2 separate regions of the Homo sapiens genome follow, and region 2 is linked to region 1. The links come from fine-mapping of genetic effects on gene expression. A gene starts in region 1. The other region holds a variant in brackets. All regions are shown on one strand. Distances are from middle to middle.

Region 1 (10,440 bases):
GCAGTGGCGGGATCTCGGCTCACTGCAAGCTCCGCCTCCCGGGTTCATGCCATTCTCCTGCCTCAGCCTCCCAAGTAGCTGGGACTACAGGCGCCCGCCACTACGCCCAGCTAATTTTTTGTATTTTTAGTAGAGACGGGGTTTCACCGTTTTAGCCGGGATGGTCTCGATCTGCTGACCTCGTGATCCGCCCGCCTCGGCCTCCCAAAGTGCTGGGATTACAGGCGTGAGCCACCGCGCCCGGCCTAATGTCTGTATTTTTAATAGAGACGGGGTTTCACTATATGGCCAGGCTGGTCTCAAACTCCTGACCTCAGGTAATGAACCTGCCTCGGCCTCCCAAAATGGTGGGATTACAAGGGTGAGCCACTACATCTGGCCTATATATACGGTCCAAGATGGCTGCCACAGCAGCAGCGTCACATCTGGCACAACAGTGCAGCCATCAAGGCAAGAGAGAAGGGAAAGGTGAGATGCCAGGGTAAAATGTGACCTGTTTCTACACTCCATCTGGACCTGGTGGGGGATGGCAGACAGGTATAGATGCAGAGAAGTCTTGCCAACCAAACAGGGATAAAGATTAGAAGCCTTGGTCCTGTTAACCAGACCTGGATTTGGAAAACTAGGAAGTTTGCCAGCCAAAGAATTTTTTAGGAAGACAGTATCTCCTTAGCCCACTAGGTTTTTCAGTGGTTTTGAGAGACAGTATATTGTGTATGAGGACATCAGGACATACTCTAAAACTCTCATGTAGTGGAAATATGTTGTTTTGTCTGAATGGCATTCAGGTTTTCCCTGGAAGCCACTAGTTTTCTTTTTCTTTCCTTTTTTTTTTCTTTTTTTAATTAAGACGGACTCTTGCTCTGTTGCCAAGGCTGGAGTGCAGTGGTGCAATCTTGGCTCACTGCAATCTCCACCTCCCGTGTTCAAGCAATTCTCCTGCCTCAGCCTCCTGAGTAGTTGGGACTACAGGCGCGTGCCACCATGCCCGGCTAATTTCTTGTATTTTTAGGAGAGATGGGGTTTTACTGTGTTAGCCAGGATGGTCTCGATCTCCTGACCTTGTGATTCACCCGCCTTGGCCTCCCAAAGTGCTGGGATTACAGGCATGAGCCGCTGCACTGGCCTAGTTTTGGAGTTATGGAATCCAACCTTGCCTTGAGCAAGGGAAGGGTGTTTTTAGAGGACCAATAGGTAGTTTGCCCAGGCATCAGAGAGGACATAATATCTGATCTGAGATCTGAATGAGGAGTAGAAGTTGGCCAAGAGGGCAAACAAGGACTCCAAACAGAGGGACTGGCATGGACAAGGCCGGGTGAGGGTACATAGCTTATCTGATAAATTGTTTAGGGTTCATGTGGCAAGAGATGATTCAGGGGCTAGGAACTGAAGTCTCTGTGGCTAGCTAAGGGAGTCTGGGTTTGTCTTGGAACCATGGGACACACTGAATGATTTAATTCAGGGAAAAACTCAACTAGAACCATGGTCTCTGGGAAAGCAACAATTTCTAGTATGTGGCAGAAATTGCTCGATATTCATAAAATGCCTTTCTTTTTCCTCCTGGGCACAGGGCTAGACTACAATTCCCAGGCTCGATTGCAGTCAGGTGAAGCCACGTGACTGAGTTTGAGCCCATCAAATATAGGTGAGAGGGATATATGGTATTTCTAGGCCTAGCCCATAATAATTTCCTGCACAGCCCTCCACATTCTCTTTTTCCCATTTTGCTGGAGAAGATCTGAGGACCTAGATGGGGCAGCTCCAAGATGGAAGTGGCCTGGATCCCTGAGTCACCATTTGGAGACGAGCCTGTCATGGACTATTATGTGAGCAAAGAATCCATTTTTTGGGGGGTGGGGGGGTGGGATGGAGTGTCGCTCTGTGGCCCAGGCTGGAGTGCTGTGGTGTGATCTCGGCTCGCTGCAACCTCCGTCTTCCAGGTTCAAGCGATTCTCCTGCCTCAGCCTCCTGAGTAGCTGGGATTACAGGCGTGTGCCACCATGCCCAGCTAATTTTTGTATTTTTGGTAGAGATGGGGTTTCACCATGTTGGTCAGGCTGGTCTTGAACTCCTGACCTTGTGATCTGCCCGCGTTGGCCTCCCAAAGTGCTGGGATTACAGGTGCGAGCCAGTGCATCCAGCTTAGTTTTTCTTTGTTCAAGGGACTAAGCAAGAACAGATGAAGGCATGGGTGAAAACAAGAGAGAATTATTCTGGAAGCAGTACTGGCAGGATTTGAGCAAATAATGAGGGGGATGGGGAAGCCTTGGGTCAGACTATCTTATGTTGCTATTTATAGGATGTGGAAGGAAGGGTCTAAGAAACATCTTGTATGATGTGCTGTGGGATATGGAGGAGGTAGAGAACAGGGCTAAAAATAACCTTCCTAGAGGTGCAGATATTTGGCAGAGACCCTGTATTCCTGGGCCTCTCGCTGACATGGGCTGTCAACAAACTGTCACGCTCTTCTCTAGATATGTCCACTTCTGTCCTGAAGCAGATATTTTTATGTACACAGCCATGGGTGAGTTCTTAACTTCTTTGTGCCTCGTTTTTATCATCTGAAGATGGTGATAATAAGTGATAGGACTTATCTCAAAGGGGTTTACGAATATATACCGAGTGTTTAGCATGGTGTTGGAGATGTAGTGAGTAGTTGAGAAATGTCAGAAATGAGCATTAAAATTCCGTTAGCTCTAGCTTGACTTCTCTATCAGTGCATACAAACACTCAAAGATAAAGCTATGAGACAGAGCAGGATTTTGCCTGTCTTGTTCACTGCTACATCTCCAGCCAGCTTAGAACAGTGACTGGCTTGCAGCAGCTATTTAAATGTTTGGTGAGTGAATGAATGAATAAGGAACTCATCTCATTTTCTTTCCTTCCTCCTTCCTTTCTCCCTTCCTTCCTCCCTCCCTTCCTTTCTTTCTTCCCTTCTTTCCAACCATCCATCCATCCATCCATCCATTCATCCATCCACCCACCCATCTATCCATCCATCCATCCATCCATCCATCCATCCACCCACCCACCCACCCAACCATCTATCTATCCATCCATCCATCCACCCATCCATCCATGCATCCACCCATCCATCCACTTATCCATCCATCCATCCATCCATCCATCCATCCATCCATCCATCTCTCTTAGAAAGGCAGTAGAGTGTAGTGGGTTAGCTCACAAGTATTTTTTTTCAATTGTGGCAAGATACACATAAAATAAAATATGCCATTTTAACCTTTTTTTTTTTGAGATGGAGTCTCATCCTCTCACCCAGGCTGGAGTGTAGTGGTGTGATCTCAGCTCACTACAACCTCTGCCCCCCAGGTTCAAGCGATTCTCCTGCCTCAGCTTCCCAAGTAGCTGGGATTACAGGCGTGCACCACCACACCCAGCCAATTTTTGTATTTTTAGTAGAGACAGGGTTTCACCATGTGGCCAGACTGGTGTCAAACTCCTAAAATCAAGTGATCCTCCTGCCTTGGTCTCCCAAAGTGCTGAGATTACAGGTGTGAGCCAAGCACACCCAGCATTTGGAACCATTTTTAAGTGTACATTTCAGTGACATTAAGTACTTCACATTGTTGTGCCACTGTATCATCCATCCCAAAACTTTCCTCCCAAACAGGAAATCTGTACCCGCTAAACACAAACTCTTCATTCTCCCTTCCCCTCGGGCCGTGGAAACCACCATTCTACTTCTGTCTCTATGAATTTGACTAGTCTAGGTACTTCATACAAGTGGAATCAGATACAGTATTTATCCTTTTGTGACAGCCCACAAGTTCTGTGATCATATAAGCTGTGTAATCTTGGGAAACTCAATCTTCCTGACACTCCACTTCCTCGTCTGTGAAATGGTTGTAATAATAGTACCTGCTTCACAGGGTGGCAGTGAGGTTTAAATGAGATAATAGAAGGCACTTAGCCCCAGTGCCTGGCACATAGAAAGTGCTCACTATTAGCTATTAGTTACAGCTAAGCATGTATTGTAAATTAGTGGACACTGGTATTGTGTGTCTAGCACTGTCCTGAGCACTTTACCCGTATTATCTCATTTAAACTTCCCAACGACCCTATGACATGGTGAAACCACTAACATCCACACCTAACAGATGAGAAAACAAAGGCCCAGAGAGGCCAAGTCATGTGCCCAAGGGTTACATAGCTAGTTTACAGCAGAGCTGGGATTGAACGCCAGGCAGCCTATTTCCAAAGTTCATGGGTCTTGCCGCTGCATTGCATTACCTCTTGCCAGTCTCTGCTGCCTCTGTCTGTGAAGGATCGTCATCTATACACTCAGTCCTGGCTCAGGCTGTCACGGTGACTGCAGGTGTTTGAAGCTGTGGGACTCATTGGAAAAATAATTGAAAATGGGATTGCTGTTTCTTTCTTTTCTTTTTTCTTTCTTTCTTTCTTTTTTTTTTTTTTTTTTTTAGACAGGGTCTCACTCTGAGGCTGAAGTGCAGTGGCGCGATCTTGGCTCACTGCAACCTCTGGGTCCTGGGTTCAAGTGATTCTCATGCCTCATCCTCCTGAGTAGCTGGGATTACAGGCAAACACCAACACGCCCTCTCTTTCTTTCTCCTTCCTTCCTTCTTTTCTTTCTTTTTCTTTTTTCTTTCTTTCTTTCTTTCTTTCTTTCTTTCTTTCTTTCTTTCTTTCTTTCCTTCCTTCTTTTCTTTCTTTCTTTTTCTTTCTTTTTCTTTCTTTCTTTCTTTCTTTCTTTCTTTCTTTCTTTCTTTCTTTCTTTCTTTTTCTTTCTTTCTTTCTTTCTTTCTTTCTTTCTTTCTTTCTTTCTTTCTTTCTTTCTTTTCTTTCCTTTCTTTCTTTCTCTGTCTTTCTTTCTTCTTTCTCTTTCCTTTTTTTTTTTTTTCAGAGCCTTGCTCTGTTGCCCAGGCTGGAGTGCAGTTGCACAATCTTGGCTCTGCGCAATCTTCGTCTCCCAGGTTCAAATGATTTTCCTGCCTTAGCCCCCCAAGTAGCTGGGATTACAGGCGTGCACCACCACGCCCGGCTGAGTTTTGTATTTTTAGTAGAGACGGGGTTTCACCGTGTTAGCCAGGATGGTCTCAATCTCCTGACCTCGTGATCCACCTGCCTCGGCCTCCCAAAGTGCTGGGATTACAGGCGTGAGCCACTGCACCTGGCTGTTTGCTGTTTCTTAACATGTGAGGTTCCAACCCAGTGGGGCCCACTAACATGTGCTGTTCTGCTTTGGACCGTGGGGAGCTGGGGTGCTGGACCCATCTCCCACCTTCTACAGCCTGGAGTGTGCTCCCAGATGACACAGCCAAGCTGGCGTGTTTTTCCCTCACTGGCGGAAAGTTCAGCAATCCCTGACTCCCTCACCCTGCCCTGTTGAGATTTAAAAAAATTTCCTCTTCTGGGCCTCAGAGCCGCCTCCTACCTGAGGTTTATTGCTTTCTCTGCACCAGCATTGAGCCTCTGCAGCCCTTTAAAAGGGGCAGAGCCCATAGTGTGATCAGCAGGTCCTGTCCCTAGGAGATAAGAGTATCTTGCACAGCAGGTGCAGGTTTCCCAGCAGCTCAGGCAAGAGTCCGATGTTTGTGCCATCTGATCCTGATGTCTGGAGAGGTGAGCCCTCTGTCGGCATCTTCCTCTCCAGGCTGGCAGAGCAAGGGGGGCTGTGAATTAATTCAAGGTTGGGGGTCGGGGCCTTCTATATCTGGACTTGCCTCCCACCCGTGTCCTCTGTCCCTTTTTCCCTACGGCAGATAGCCATGTGTGAGCCTGAATTTGGCAATGACAAGGCCAGGGAGCCGAGCGTGGGTGGCAGGTGGCGAGTGTCCTGGTACGAACGGTTTGTGCAGCCATGTCTGGTCGAACTGCTGGGCTCTGCTCTCTTCATCTTCATCGGGTGCCTGTCGGTCATTGAGAATGGGACGGACACTGGGCTGCTGCAGCCGGCCCTGGCCCACGGGCTGGCTTTGGGGCTCGTGATTGCCACGCTGGGGAATATCAGGTGAGACCAGCTCTGAGGATTCAGCCTGATGCTGACTTGGGGCACTGGGTGTGGAAAGCAAAGGCGTTGTCAAGGACCCCTGGGCGCATACGTATTCGGGATTTCAAGGAGCGCTCTGGATAACTATGGGGTTGGGAGTCAGACTGGGGTCAACTCCAGACCCCGCAGCCTGTGAGCTTGTGACTTTGAGCAAGTCATTCTCTTTTTGAGTAGCTGGATCACAGGCATGCGCCGCAGCACCCAACTAATTTTTAAATTTTGTTGTAGAGATGGGGTCTCACTATGTTGCCCAGGCTAGTCTTGAACTCCTGGTCTCAAGCGATCCTCCTGCCTTGGCTTCCCAAAGTTTTGGGATTACAGGCATGAGACACCATGCCTGGCTGGCAAGTTACTCTCTAAACCCAAAGTTCCCCGCCTATAAAATGGGAATAGTAGCTTTTAAATGTTTTTTTTTTCAAGCCAACATATCTATATTGCTAACCATGTACCAGGCACTAGTCTAATTACTTTATAGATATTAGTTATTTAATCCTCACAAAAGCCTTGTGGGGTAGGTCCTGTTATTAGCCCCATTGTACAGCTGCAAAAGTGAAAGGCCATGTAATCTGTCCAAGCTTAGAGGGCCAGAAAGTGGCAGAGGCGGGAGTCAAGAACAAGCTGTCTGGCTCCAGCGCTCAAATCCAAGTGCCTCATGCGGAAGTCATGAGAATTAAATGAAGTAGAGCGCCTGGCACACACCAAACATACAACAGGCATTGGTTGCTGTGTTATTGTTACCACTAGAAGGGGGTTTTAGGGAAAGCAGAAATGCATAGAAGACCTGAGCCAGGTTTTCCCACCTGGGTATGCAGAGATCTGCAGTGGTCCTGGCTTGTCAAGAGGTGATCAAGAAGGAGGGGCAGGGAAAGGGACAGGCTTCTCTGGCTTAGCTCTCGTCTGGGTAGAGGCTCAATGGGGAGGTCTGTGGACATGGCTGCTGGTTCCCAGGAGAGCCAGCCATCACGACGAAGATCTTGAGTGGGGTGCCTGGCAGGGTGATCTGGGACATGGTTGGTCTGTATTAAATCTCACTCAAAAAATAGATCTGAATGAGGAAACAGAAATACTATTTCTGAGAAAACCAGAATGGAAAAGAGCTTTAACATCTCTTTAGGCCGGGTGCAGTGGCTCACGCCTGTAATCCCAGCACTTTGGGAGGCTGAGGCGGGTGGATCACCTGAGGTCAGGAGTTGGAGAGCAGCCTGGCCAACAGGGTGAAACCCTGTCTCTACTAAAGATACAAAAATTAGCTGGGCGTGGGGGCAGGCACCTGTGGTCCCAGCTACTTCGGAGGCTGAGGCAGGAGAATTGCTTGAACTGGGAGGGAGAGGTTGCAGTGAGCCGAGATTGTGCCACTGCACTCCAGCCTGGGCAACAGAGTGAGACTCCATCTCCAAAAAACAAACAAACAAACAAACAAACAAAAAACAAACCACATCTCTTTAGACGTCCAAGGGAGGCTGCAAGTGAAACAAAAAGTACATGATCTTCCCTTTGGACGGATCTGAGATTGAAGGCAACCTTTATCACTTCTTAGCAGGGTGACCACAGCAAGTTGCTGAAGCCTCTGTGTGCAGTGGTATAAATATGAGTAATAATAATAGCTGATGTTTTTTGAATGCTAACTACATAGATACTACTATGGGCTGTACAAATATTAATTCTTAATATCTTTGCAATAGCTTTATCAGGCAGAGATCATTGAGGCACAGAGAGGTTATGTAACTTTGCCAATGCCACACAGCTCTTCAGTGGCAGAGTTGAGCTTTGAACCCAGGCCAGCTGGCTGGAAAGACCATCTCTTTGGCACTGCAAATACTGCCTCTCTGTTTGGCTTTTTTGACAAATATTTATTCAGCACCTATTGCGTGCCAGACACTGACTTTGAGGTTGTTCACTGGATCCAGGATAAGCTATGTATGTAAGTTATAAGCACCCAGCACAGCCCCTGGCACACAGTAAGTGTCAGAGAAATATATGCTGAGTGAACAATGAATGAATGAATGAATGTGTCTTGATTGTTTTATTGCTAATGAGTGTAAACCAGGAAATGTGTGGTTTTCGTCACCTGGCCCTCCTGATAGAGCCATGCTCTGGGTGACAGTTTCTCTCCCCTTTGGGGCTCCCCTGGGAAGCCGCCTCACCCTGACTTCATCTGTGTATCTCAGCAGAGCCCAGGCTAAGCTACTTGAGGCCAAGTAGGCCTGGCTGCCCCTCTTCCCAACCTGTGGAGTCTGAGCACTGGCTGGTGCTTTCAAACCATGCATGGAGGTCAGGCGCAGTGGCTCACGCCTGTAATCCCAGCACTTTGGGAGGCCGAGGCAGGTGAATCACCTGAGGTCAGGAGTTCGAGACCAACCTGGCCAACATGGTGAAACCCCGTCTCTACCAAAAATACAAAAATTAGCCGGGCGTGGTGGCAGCCCCGTTATCCCATCTACTTGGGAGGCTGAAGCAGAAGAATCGCTTGAAACCAGGAGGCGGAGGTTGCAGTGAGCCGAGATTGCACCATTGCACTCCAGCCTGGGTGACAAAGGGAGACCCTGTCTCAAAAAAAAAAACAAAAAACAAAAAACAAATCAAATCAAACCGTGCATGGAGCTTATCTGAGGGCCTGGGCCCAGAGCTGAGCCAGACAAGTTGGGGTAGCTGGTCTCGAGCTATCAGGGTGTTGGACAAAGTCCTTTTGGGCAGAGCTGAGGTCCTCTGCCCAGTCTCAACTGAATGTCCTATGTCCTTTGGAGGATGGGTAAGCTCATTGGTGGGCTCTTTACATTAGGGGGGCACTTTGGTTCTCAAGTGACATGGGGAGTCTTGGGGTCCCTTTCTCTCTCATTGGGGAGTATCCATTCCTGGAAACCAGATGGATTCAGGAGGCCAAACTGTGACAATATTTCCTCCATCAGAGTGGGACTGGTTGGGACACTGATGTGAGTGCAGCCACCCTGGCTCTGGGGCCTGGGCTGGTTGAACATCTTGGTGAACACGAAGGCTCTTTACCCATGAGCCAGGGGGTGGCTGATCAACTGCAACCTGCCCTTTGACCTCAGGTTCTGACTTGTCTAATTCCCTTCCACACCCCAAACTCCCAATCCCAATCCCTAACCTGGTCATGAACCTCCAACTCCACCCCGTGATTCTCAATGCCATTTTCAGCCTGAACTCCAAATCTGCATTTTACACCCATCACACTTTCAGACCACAAGTAGGGTTTTCACTGGCTGAGCAGTTCAACCAATCAGGAGGTCTTATTCAGGGCCTAGCTACTCATAAAGGGAGACCCGGGCCGGGCACGGTAGCTCGTGCCTGTAACCCCAGCACTTTGGGAGGCCGACGTGGGTGGATCGCTTGAGGTCAGGAGTTTGAGACCAGCCTGACCAACATGGTGAAACCTCGTCTCTACTAAAAATACAAAAATAAGCCAGGCGTGGTGGCACACACCTGTAGTTCCAGCTACTTAGGAGGCTGAGTCAGAAGAATTGCTTGAACTCAAAAGGTGGAAGCTGCAGTGAGCCGAGATCACACCATTGCACTGCAGCCCGCGCGACAGAGCAAGACTCCGTCTCGTAAAATCAAACAAATCATAAGGGGAGGCCTGGATACCGCTCTTGGGCTACTAACTTGGAGCCTTGGTATCTCAATCTGACCTGTGGCCACATCTCTGAAGGGCTGGAGGGAGGCTTGGAGGGAGTCAGGGAGGAGTTAAGGGATGGTCTCCCTACACGCTCTTCCTCCAGGGCCATCCTGGGGGCTGGGCTTTGGACTTAGAGGCTGCCCTTTATCTCTTACCCTCTGCCTGGCATCTCAGGGAAAATGGAAGCAATTTGGTGCCTCTTTGTATTTGAGCTGGGCCCCGGACTGACTCTTGCCCTGAGAGGCCAGCCTGGTGGGTTGGCTGGGACACACTGTCTCAAGTGCCAGCCATGTGGTCAGCCCTGGGCTCATGACTTCCTCTGCTCTTGTGGGTTACAGTGGTGGACACTTCAACCCTGCGGTGTCCCTGGCAGCCATGCTGATCGGAGGCCTCAACCTGGTGATGCTCCTCCCGTACTGGGTCTCACAGCTGCTCGGGGGGATGCTCGGGGCTGCCTTGGCCAAGGTGGGTAAACCCCAGGGGCTGGGCTAGTCTTCCTCTCTGATGGGGCTGCTGGAGGTGCATATGTGGGTGTGTGTGTGGGACAGTGGGGAGTGGGGAAATGTCCAATCTTTTGCTTGTTTCTGCCAGTGGAATTGGTGGACGTTTTTCTTCTCTCTTTCTTTCTTATTGCATTTTATTGTATTTTTTATTTGTTTGTTTTTTTGAGATGGAGTCTTGCTCTGTCACCCAGGCTGGAGTGCAGTGGCCTGATCTTGGCTCACTGCAACCTCTGCCTCCTGGGCTCAAGCAATTCTCCCACCTCAGCCTCCTGAGT
Region 2 (10,440 bases), 37 kb before region 1:
ACATTTAAAAGGCTTTTTGGGAAAAGTCATACATGCATATAATTTTTTACAAAACCAAAATGAAGTAGTATAGAGTAAAAACAACCCTCCTCACTACTGGTCTACTACCTTCTCTCTTAAGAGACAACTACCATTTCTAGTTTCTTCTGTATTTTCCAAAAGTCTGTACATATACAGACAAATTTGTCTCACTTTTTCTTTACATAGAGAGTGGTGTAATATGCACATTACTTGCTTTTTAAATTACGCAACTTGCTTTTTAAATTCCATGATATATATGTCTTGGAGGTTATTGCATATTAATACGTATGGACCTACCCCATTTTTAAAAATGGCTGCATAGTGTCCTGTTTTGACAGTATGAATCTGCTTCAATTTACTCTGCCTGTCTCCTCCAGTTGCCACTAGTTTTTCTTACTGAAGTTTAACAGCTCTTTATATAATAAGGAACTCAGCCCTTTGCCACTTGAATTGCAAATATATGTTTCTAGTTTGGCATTTGTATTTTGACTTTGTTTATGGTATTTTTTCTTCTTTTCAGTGAAAAGACATTAAAATGGAGCCACACCATAATTACTATTTTATAGCCGCCTTCTTTCCACTTAATCTATCATAAACATTTTTTCATATCCGTAGCTATGGGCCATGATCTTCATTTTCAATGCAGACACTTGCATCGTTCTATTTTAATTCTTTCCACAGGATAGAATCACTTGAATTCCTGGATGAAATGGAGCTGCTGGAGCAGCTCATGCGGCATTACTGCCTTTGCTGGGCAACCAAAGGAGGAAATGAGCTTGGTGCGTGATTGTACTTTTCTTGCCTTGACCTGGAAATAGTGAACTTTTCTTTTTCCTATTCTTTCCCTTTCTCTTTCTGTTTTTTGTCTTCCCTCTTTCTCTCTCTGTCCCTTCTTTCTTGTTTTGAGACAGGGTCTCGCTCTGTCACCCAGGCTAGAGTGCAGTGGCACGGTCATAGCTCATTGCAGCCTTCAATTCCTGGGCTCAAGTGATCCTCCTGCCTCCTGAGTAGCTGGGACTACAGGAGCCTGGCTAATTTTCTGTAGAGGTCTCTCTAAGGCTGGTCTTGAATTCCTAGCCTCAAGTAGGCTGGGCGCGGGGTCTCACACCTGTAATCCCAGCACTTTGGGAGGCTGAGGTGGGCAGATCACTTGAGGTCAGGAGTTTGAGACCAGCCTGGCCAACATGATGAAACCCCGTCTCTACTAAAAATACAAAAAAAAAAAAAATAGCCAGGCGTGGTGGCAGGCACCTGTAATCCCAGCTACTTGGGAGGCTGAGGCAGGAGAATCACTTGTACCTGGGAGGTGGAGGTTGCAGTGAGCCGAGACTGCACCATTGCACTCCAGCCCGGGCAAGAAGAGCGAAACCCTGTCTCAAAAAATAAATAAATAAAGAATTCCTGGCCTCAAGCAATCCTCTTGCCTCAGCTTCCCAAAGTGCTGGGATTACAGGCATGAGCCACTGTGCCTGGCCGGAACTTTTCTTCTTCCCAAAATGAAAGATGTATTTGGAACTTTGGGCCCAGAAAGAACTAGAGGATGATGTACATGTATCCGTGAGCATATCCAGAGAACTTGCTGTTATATCTTTTGTGCTTTTATAGCACAAAAACCAAGAGAACTGTTTAAGCCTTGTAGCCCAAAACAACCCTTGAGAGATGTACTGTGGAGTTCCCACAGCTGGAAGGTAAAAGAGCTTGAGAGTTTAAAAATCTCTAGAAAAGTAACCGGCGTTTGTCTTTTCCATCCACTTACAACCAGGTTCACTGGATGTTAAACGCACAGATCAGTACATCTTGCTTACAAACCCATGCAGCTAGGGGCTGAATTTTCCCTCTTCTCATTAAGGTGCACATGCCTGTCTGTGGCCGAGTAGGGCCACGGAGAACAGGCGTGGATCTATCTCTGTTTCTTGTTACCTTTGTCCTGGTCCAGCTCCTTTTCAGCTGCCCCCTGCTGGGCTTGCCTCCCCCAGTGGTTAGGCTTTGAGTGTCTCTCCAGCCCGATGGAGGCCACTTTAGATCCCAGTTCCGGCCTTCAGTGGAATAGCTGCCCTTCAAGCTTCCCGCAGATGTAATCCACATGACATGTGGTCACAAGCGGGCAGCTGATCCGAAACAGAACTTGACAGAGGCAAGGACCATTCCCTATGCAAAAATTCCAGGTTGACATGAGACTGATAATCAGCCCCTTTGGACCTGTCATTCCACACAGATTTGCCTAGCTATGCAGCTCAGCCCACACAATCCTTTCACATTTGTTTTGTTTGGTTTTGGTTTTTGTTTTTTTTTGGCTTTTTTTTTTTTTTTTTTTTTTTTTTTTTTGAGATGGAGTCTTGCTCATTGTCCAGGCTGGAGTGCAGTAGCATGATCTCGTCTCACTGCAACCTCCGCCTCCTGGGTTCAAGTGATTCTCCTGCCTCAGCCTCCTGAGTAGCTGGGATTACAGGCGTCCACCACCATGTCCAGCTAATTTCTGTATTTTTGGTAGAGATGGGGTTTCACCATGTTGGCCAGGCTGGTCTCGAACTCCTGACCTTAAGTGATCTGCCTGGCTCGGCCCCCCAAAGTGCTGGGATTATAGGCATGAGCCATTGTGCCTGGCCTTCACATTCCTTTTGGATTTAAAGTCATTTATTGTGAATTGAGCGCAGTGGCTCATGCCTGTAATCCCAGCACTTTGGGAGGCTAAGGCAGGCAGATCACCTGAGGTCAGGAGTTCGAAACCAGCCTGGCCAACATGGTGAAATCCCGTCTCTACTAAAAATACAAAATTTAGCTGGGCGTGGTGGCACATGCCTGTAGTCCCAGCTACTTGGGAGGCTGAGGCAGGAGAATCTCTTGAACCCGGGAGGCAGAAGTTGCAGTGAGCTGAGATGGCACCACTGTACTCCAGCCTGGGCAACAGAGCGCGACTCTGTCTCCAGAAAAAAAAAAAAGTCACTTATTGGGGTATTTGTATGTTATCCTCCTCTTAATTATATTAAAAAATACTTCTTAGTAGGAAACTTAAAAGCTTCTAAAAAGTATGACTAAGAAAATCCACCTGTATGCCTGTCAGTCAGAGATGACCTCTTGTGACTTTTCCCTTCCCCTCTATTTCTAAATAGTGTTTTGTTTGTTTTTATAATAAGAGTTGAATTTTTATATTTATGCAACTTTGATTTCAAGTGTTTTCAATTTAATGTTATAACATTAGCATTTCCCCCTGGCAATTAAAAATGCTCAATGAGCATAATTGTAATGGCTTTATAATATTGTATTATGTCACTATGGCTGAATTAATATTTCCATATTTTTGGAAATGTAGGTTATTTGTAATACTTTTAAGTGAACTCTAGTTCTCACAAAGGAACAATATATTGAGCATTTTAATGTCAGGAATTTACTTTGTCCCCACTGACCCGTGACTGCTTTGGGACATCAGTGCTTGTCTGTGTGTGTGGAAGATCCGTATCTGCCTTTGCTCAAAGTTCAGCACATAAAGGGTAGATTTTTGGCGTTAACTGCAGACAGTCCATAAACTGTTATAATGTTTTCTTAATCATTTTAAAACCACCCATAAACACAGTCTTACCCAACCTTTTGTTTCCTTGCGAAACCTCATTTTATGTAGCAGGAGGGCGGTGCTACAGTGGTCAGCAGTGTGGCTGGTGCCCCTGAGCCGGTCACTGGGGGTCCTCTAGGGGCCTCTGCTCCTGGCCACCAGAGTCTCCTAATGGTGTCTGTGTGTCTCTCCCCTCAGGGCTGAAGGAGATAACTTATTAATCTGTCGAAGGCTTATGCCGAGCCAGAAGCCGAAGCCACTTGCCCTCCTGGAGGAGACCTGCAAGCTCCCTGAGCGGTGGGCGGGCCTCGTCCGCAGGTCTCATCCCACACTCTTGAGAAGCCTTGGTCACTACAGTGGTCGCACATGTTCCTCTTCCTGTTCCTGTTGACATGTCGTTGTTTAAATAAATCTC[A/C]CTTGCCACCAGTCGCCTGTGGTTGGACCTCTGCTGGCTGCCGCTGCTCGTTCCGTGCCCCATGGCTTGGGCGGGCCAGGGTTCACCTCTGTGTTAGCTAAAGCCAAGGACCCCAAGTCTGCTTTGACCTTGGCTTACTCCCTGTGAGTCACACCCGGCCCATGACCTTGAGTCCATTTTAGGATCTACTCCCTCACATGCTGTTTGTTGCAGCACATGACATTGTGCCTCACTCCCTGACCCTTGTCCTCCACCAGATGTGAGGCTAGTGCTCTTCTCGGGCTCCTGTCTCCGCCCTGGCCACACTGGCCTGCTCAGTTGCCTCCTTCATCTTGGTCATGGTGGCAGGCTGAAGAATGGCCCCTAAAGTGTCCATGTCCTGATCCCCAGAACCTGTGAGTGTGTGTTACCTTCTGTGGCAAAGGGGCTTTGCAAATGGGATTAGGGGTTTGAGATGAAGAGGTGGTCCTGGGTTATCCAGGTGGGCCTGATAGGATCACGGGGTCCTCATTAGAGGGACAGACGAGGCGTCAGAGTCAGAGGGGCCCAGACAAGAAGCAGGGGCAACCAGGGGATGCTACCTAGGGCAATAGCAGCAGACCCTCCCTTGGCCTCCAGCTGGAACTGCCTGCCAACACCTTGATGTTAGCCCAGAGAAATCGATTTCAGATTTCTCACCTCCAGAGCCGTAAGAGAATACATCTGTGGTGGTGGTTTTTTTTTTTTTTTTTTCTTTTTTTTAGATGGAGTCTTGCTCTGTTGCCCAGGCTTGGAGTGCAGTGGCGCGATCTCGGCTCACTGCACCCTCTGCCTCCCGGGTTCAAGTGATTCTTCCGCCTCAGCCTCCCAAGTAGCTGGGATTACAGGTGCATACCATCATGCCTGTCTAATTTTTGTATTTTTAGTGGAGATAGAGTTTCACCATGTTGGCCAGGCTGGTCACGAACTCCTGACCTCAAGTGATCCGCCCGTCTTGGCCTCCCAAAGTGCTGGGATTACAGGCATGAGCCTCTGTGCCCAGACTGATCTGTGGTGTTTTGAGCCACCAAGTTGGGGGCTTAAACTTACAGCCACAACTAGAAGTCAATGCAGTTATGAGACAGGTTCATAGGGCCCCTGAGTGATGACCTCATATTTCAGAAACATAAGGCTTGTCCCATACCTGTCTGCTGAACTCCCTGAGTGATGGGTAGACCTTGTCTACAGGGACTTCTTAAGTTATGTGACTGGCGCTGCGAGCCTGAACCTGCATGTGCAGGGTGGCACTGCAGAAGTCCCCAGCGCTCTCCTCTGCTGGAGAGGTAACAGCCTCTCTTCTACCATTCAGAATCCTTAAATCAGTGTCCCCTAGAGTGTGGGCCCTGCACCTCTAGTGGCATGCCAGTTGATGGGATGTGTTCCTATCAATAAATACCTGTGATAAAATGTATAAATTAGGTGCAGTAAGACTAGCAACAATTTAAAAAAGAACAACTATAGCAATATGTTAAGGTTATGTGAATGTGGTCTTTGAAGATATCTTAACTGGCCGAGTGCAGTGGTGCACGCCTGTAATCCCAGCACTTGGGGAGGCCAAGACAGGTGGATCCTGAAGTCAGGAGTTCGAGACCAGCCTGGCCAACATGGTGAAACCCCCCCCCCACCGCCCCGCCGCCTGTAATTCCAGCTCTTTGGGGGGCTGAGATGGGCAGATCACAAGGTCAGGAGTTCAAGACCAGCCTGGCCAACATGGTGAAACCCTGTCTCTACTAAAAATACAAAAAAAAAAAAAAAAAAATCCGGGCTTGGTGGCAGGCATCTGTAAGGCAGGAGAATTGCTTGAACCCAGGAGGCAGAGGTTGCAGTGAACCGAGATTGCGCCACTGCACTCCAGCCTGGATGACAGAGCAAGACTCCATCTTGGAAAAAAAGAAAATATCTTAGCTATACTCACTTATTTTTGGACCTCAACTGACCTCAGGTAACGGAAACCTTGGAAAACAAAACCACAGGAAAGGGGTAACTCTGGTATATGTATAGCATTAGCAGAAACAATGTTTACTTTTTTTATTGAGACGGAGTCTTGCTCTGTCACCTAGCCTGGAGTGCAGTGGCGCGATCTCAGCTCACTGCAAGCTCCACCTCCCGGATTCACGCCATTCTCCTGCCCCAGCTTCCCAAGTAGCTGGGACTACAGGAGCCCGCCACCATGCCCAGCTAATTTTTTTTGTGTTTTTAGTAGAGATGGAGTTTCACCACGTTAGGCAGGATGGTCTCTATCTCCTGACCTCGTGATCCACCTGCCTCGGCCTCCCAAAGTGCTGGGATTACAGGCGTGAGCCGCCGTGCCTGGCCCCACAATGTTTACTTTTTGTTGTTGTTGTTTTCAGAAAGGGTCTTGCCCCATCTCCCAGGCTGGAGTGCAGTAGTGCAGTCATAGCTCTCTGCAGCCTCAACCTCCTTGGGCTCAAGTGATCCTCCTTCCTCAGCCTCCTGAGTAACTGAACCACAGGCACACACCAGCAAGCCTGGCTATTTTTAACTTTTTTTGTGGAGACAGGGTCTCCCTATGTTGCCAGGGGTGGTCTTGAACTCGGGTTCAAGTGATCCTCCCATCCGTCCTATTCCAAATTTGATATTGAAATTAGGCCAGTTAATAACCCTACAATGGCCTCTACATGCTCAAGTGAAAGGAAGAGTCACAAAGAGTCACATGCCTTTCACTTTAAATCAAAGCTGGAAATGATTAAGCTTGGTGAGGAAGGCACGTCAAAAGCTGAAATAGGGTCGGCTGTGGTGGCTCATGCCTGTAATCCCAGCACTTTGGGAGGCCGAGGTGGGCGGATCACCTGAGGTCAGGAGTTTGAGACCAGCCTGGCCAACATAGTGAAACCTCATCTCTACTAAAAGTACAAAAATTAGCCTGGTGTGGTGGCAGGCGCCTGTAGTCCCAGCTACTTGGGAGTTTGAGGCAGGAGAATCGCTTGAACCTGGGAGGCAGAGGTTGCAGTGAGCGAAGATGGCACCACTGCACTCCAGCCTGGGTGACAGAGTGAGACTCCATCTGAAAAAAAAAAAAAAAAAAAAAAAAACTGAAATAGGCCGAAAGCTAGACCTCTTGTGCCAAACAGCCAAGTTGTGAATGCAAAGGAAAAGTTCTTGGAGGAAATGAAAAAGTGCTACTCCAGTGAACACATGAATGATAAGAAAGCGAAACTGTATTATTACCGATATGGAGAAAGTTTGAGCGGTCTGTATAGAAGATCAAACCAGCCACAACCTTCCCTTAAGCCAAAGCCTAATCGAGAGCAGGGCCCTAACTCTCTTCAATTATGTGATGGCTGAGAGAGGAGAGGAAGCTGCAGAAGAAAAGTTGGAAGCTAGCAGAGGTTGGTTCCTGAGGTTTAAGGAAAGAAGCCGTCTCCATAACATAAAAGTGCAAGGTGAAGCAGCAGGTGCTGATGGAGAAACTGAAGCAAGTTGTCCAGAAGATCCAGCTGAGATCATTGATGAAGGAAGGTGGCTACACTAAACAACAGATTTTCAATGTAGGCAAAACAGCTTTCTCTTGCAAGAGGATGCCATCTAGGACTTCCAAAGCTAGAGAGGAGAATTCAATGCCTGGCTTCAAAACTTCATAGGAAAGCCTGACTTCTTAGTGTCTAGTATGAAATGCAGCTGGTGACATTAAGTTAAGGTCAGTGCTTATTTACCATTCTGAAAATCCTAGGGCCCTTAAGAATTATGCTAAATCCACTGGGTGCAGTGGGTCATGCCAAGGCAGGCGGATTGCTTGAGGCCAGGAGTTCGAAACTAGCCGAGCCAACATGGTGAAACCCCATCTTTACTAAAAAATACAAAAATTAGCTGGGTGTGGTGGTGCATGCCTGTAGTCCCAGCTACTTGGGAGGCTGAGGCACGAGGATTGCTTGAACCTGGGAGGTGGAAGTTGCACTGAAGCAAGATTGTGCCACTGCACTCCGGTTTGTGTGACAGAGTGAGACTCTGTCTCAAAAAAAAAAAAAAAAGGTGCCAAATCTGTGTGCTATAGAAATGGAACAACAAAGCCCAGGTGACAGCACATCTGATTACGGTGTGGTTTACTGAGTATTTTAAGGCCATTGTTGACACCTACTACTGAGAAAAAAAATTACTTTCAAAATATTATTGCTTATTGACAGTGCACCTGGTCACCAAAGAACTCTGACAGAGATGTGCAAGGCGATGAATGCTGTTTTCATGCATGCTGACACAACATTCATTCTGCAGCCCCACGGATCAAGGAGTAATTTTGACTTTCAAGTCTTACTATTTAGAAATGTATTTTGTAAGGCCAGGTGCAGTGGCTCACGCTTGTAATCCCAGCACTTTGGGAGGCCGAGGTGGGTGGATCACAAGGTCAAGAGTTCCAGACCAGCCTGGCCAATATGGTGAAACCCCGTCTCTACTAAAAATACATAAATTAACCCGGCGCAGTGGCGGGCGGCAGTAGTCCCAGCTACTTGGGAGGCTGAGGCAGGAGAATCGCTTGAACTTGGGAGGCAGAGGTTGCAGTGAGCCAAGATCACGCCACTGCACTCCAGCCTGGGCGACAGAGTGAGACTCCATCTCAAAAAAAAAAAAAATAATAATGAAATACATTTTGTAAGGCTGTAGCCACCATAGGTAGTGATTTCTCTGATGGATCTGGGTAAAGTACATTGGAAACCTTCTGAAAAGGATTCACCATTCTAGATGCCATTAAGAACATTAGTAGCCGAGCACGGTGGCTCATGCCTGTAACCCCAGCACTTTGGGAGGCCGAGATGGGCAAATCATTTGAGGTCAGGAGTTCAAGACCAGCCTGGCCAACATGGTGAAACCCCCTTCTCTACTAAAAATGCAAAAATTAGCCGGGTGTGGTGGGACATGCCTGTAATCCCAGCTATTGAGGAGGCTGAGGCAGGAGAATTGCTTGAGCCCGGGAGGCGGAGGTTGCAGTGAGCCGAGATCACGCCATTGCGCTCCAGCCTGGGCCACAGAGCTAGACTCCGTCTCAAAAAAAAAAAAAAAAAAAAAATTAGTAATGCATGGGAGGAGGTCGAAATATCAACCTTAATGGGTTTGGATGAAGTTGATTCCAGCCCTCATGGATGATTTTGAGGCATTTAAGACTTCAGTAGAGGAAGGAATTGCAGATGTGGTGGAAATAGCAAGGTAACTAGAATTAGGAATGGAGCATAAAGATGTGACTGAATTGCTGCAATCTCATGATCAGACTTCAACGGATGAGGAATTGCTACTTATGAATGAGCAGAGAAAGTGGTTTCTTGAGATAGAATCTACTCCTACATCCTTGAAGATGCTGTGAACATTGTTGAAATGACAATAAGGGATTTAAGATGTTACACAAATTTAGTTGATAAAGCAGCAGCAAAGTTTAAAAGGAATGACTCCAATTTTGAAAGAAGTTCTACTGTGAGTAAAATGCTGTAAAACAGCCTCTCTCGCCACAGAAATCTTTCGGGAAAGGAAGAGTCAACCAATGAGGCAAACTTCATTGTTGTCTGCACAGCCATTCACTGATCTTTCAGTAACCACCACCCTGCTCAACCAGCAACCATCAACATCAAAGCAAGACTCTCCACCAGCCAAATGATGATGACTTGCTGAAGGCTCAGATGATCATTAGCATTTTTAAAGCAATAACGTATTTTTAAAGTAAGGCATGCACATCTTAAAGACATAATACTATTGCACACGTAATAGAATACAGTATAGCATAAACATAACATTTATATGCACTGGGAAACCAAAAAATTCATGTGATATTCACTTTATTGAGATGATCTGGAACTAAACCTGCAATATCTCTCAGATATTCCTGTACGTGAAATCTTTCGAAAGAACAATATTTGTTCTTTTTTTCTTTTCTTTTCTTTTCTTTTTCTTTTTCTTTTTTTTTTTTTTTGAGATGGAGTCTTGCTCTTGTTGCCCAGGCTGGAGTACAATGGTGCGATCTCTGCTCACTGCAACCTCCGCCTCCCAGGCTCAAGCGATTCTCCTGCCTCAGCCTCCCGAGTAGCTGGGACTACAGGTGCACAACACCGCACCCAGCTAATTTTTGTATTTCCAGTAGAGACGGGGTTTCACCATGTTGGCCAGACTGGTCTCGAACTCCTGACCTCAGGTGATCTGCTTGCCTTAGCCTCCCAAGGTGCTGGAATTATAGGCGTGAGCCACCACGCCCGGCCTGGATTTCTTATATATAAGATCATGACAGACATAATGTTACTTCTGTGCCATTTTGGATGCCTTCTCTTTGTTTTTCTTGCACAATTTCTCTGTCTACCTTCAATCCGATATTGAATAGAAGTAGTAAAAAGTGGACATCCTTGTCTTATGCCTGCTATTGGAGAAAAAGCTTTTAGTCTTTCGTTGTTGAGTATGATATTAGCTGTGGGTTTTTTTATATGGTCAGGTTGTGTATGGTGGCTCC

Evidence for each region. PIP is the estimated chance that this variant, and not a neighbour inherited with it, causes the effect. A credible set is the group of variants that fine-mapping cannot tell apart.
Region 2: its variant is the best candidate, but not a certain one, in a credible set for the expression of AQP8 in whole blood (TOPMed, PIP 0.65).

The regions. Positions count from the first base shown.
Region 1 is chr16:25,211,457-25,221,896 of GRCh38, forward strand. AQP8 (aquaporin 8) reads left to right here and starts at 5,491. Exons shown (of 6, transcript NM_001169.3): 1 at 5,491-5,601; 2 at 5,742-5,989; 3 at 10,001-10,127. The coding sequence starts at 5,590.
Region 2 is chr16:25,174,235-25,184,674 of GRCh38, forward strand. LCMT1 (leucine carboxyl methyltransferase 1) reads left to right here. Exons shown (of 11, transcript NM_016309.3): 10 at 703-800; 11 at 3,767-3,994. The coding sequence ends at 3,789. Among named protein-coding and RNA genes, the nearest start is that of LCMT1-AS2, 30 kb to the left of the region's middle. The variant A/C (reference allele first, on the strand shown) is at 3,984.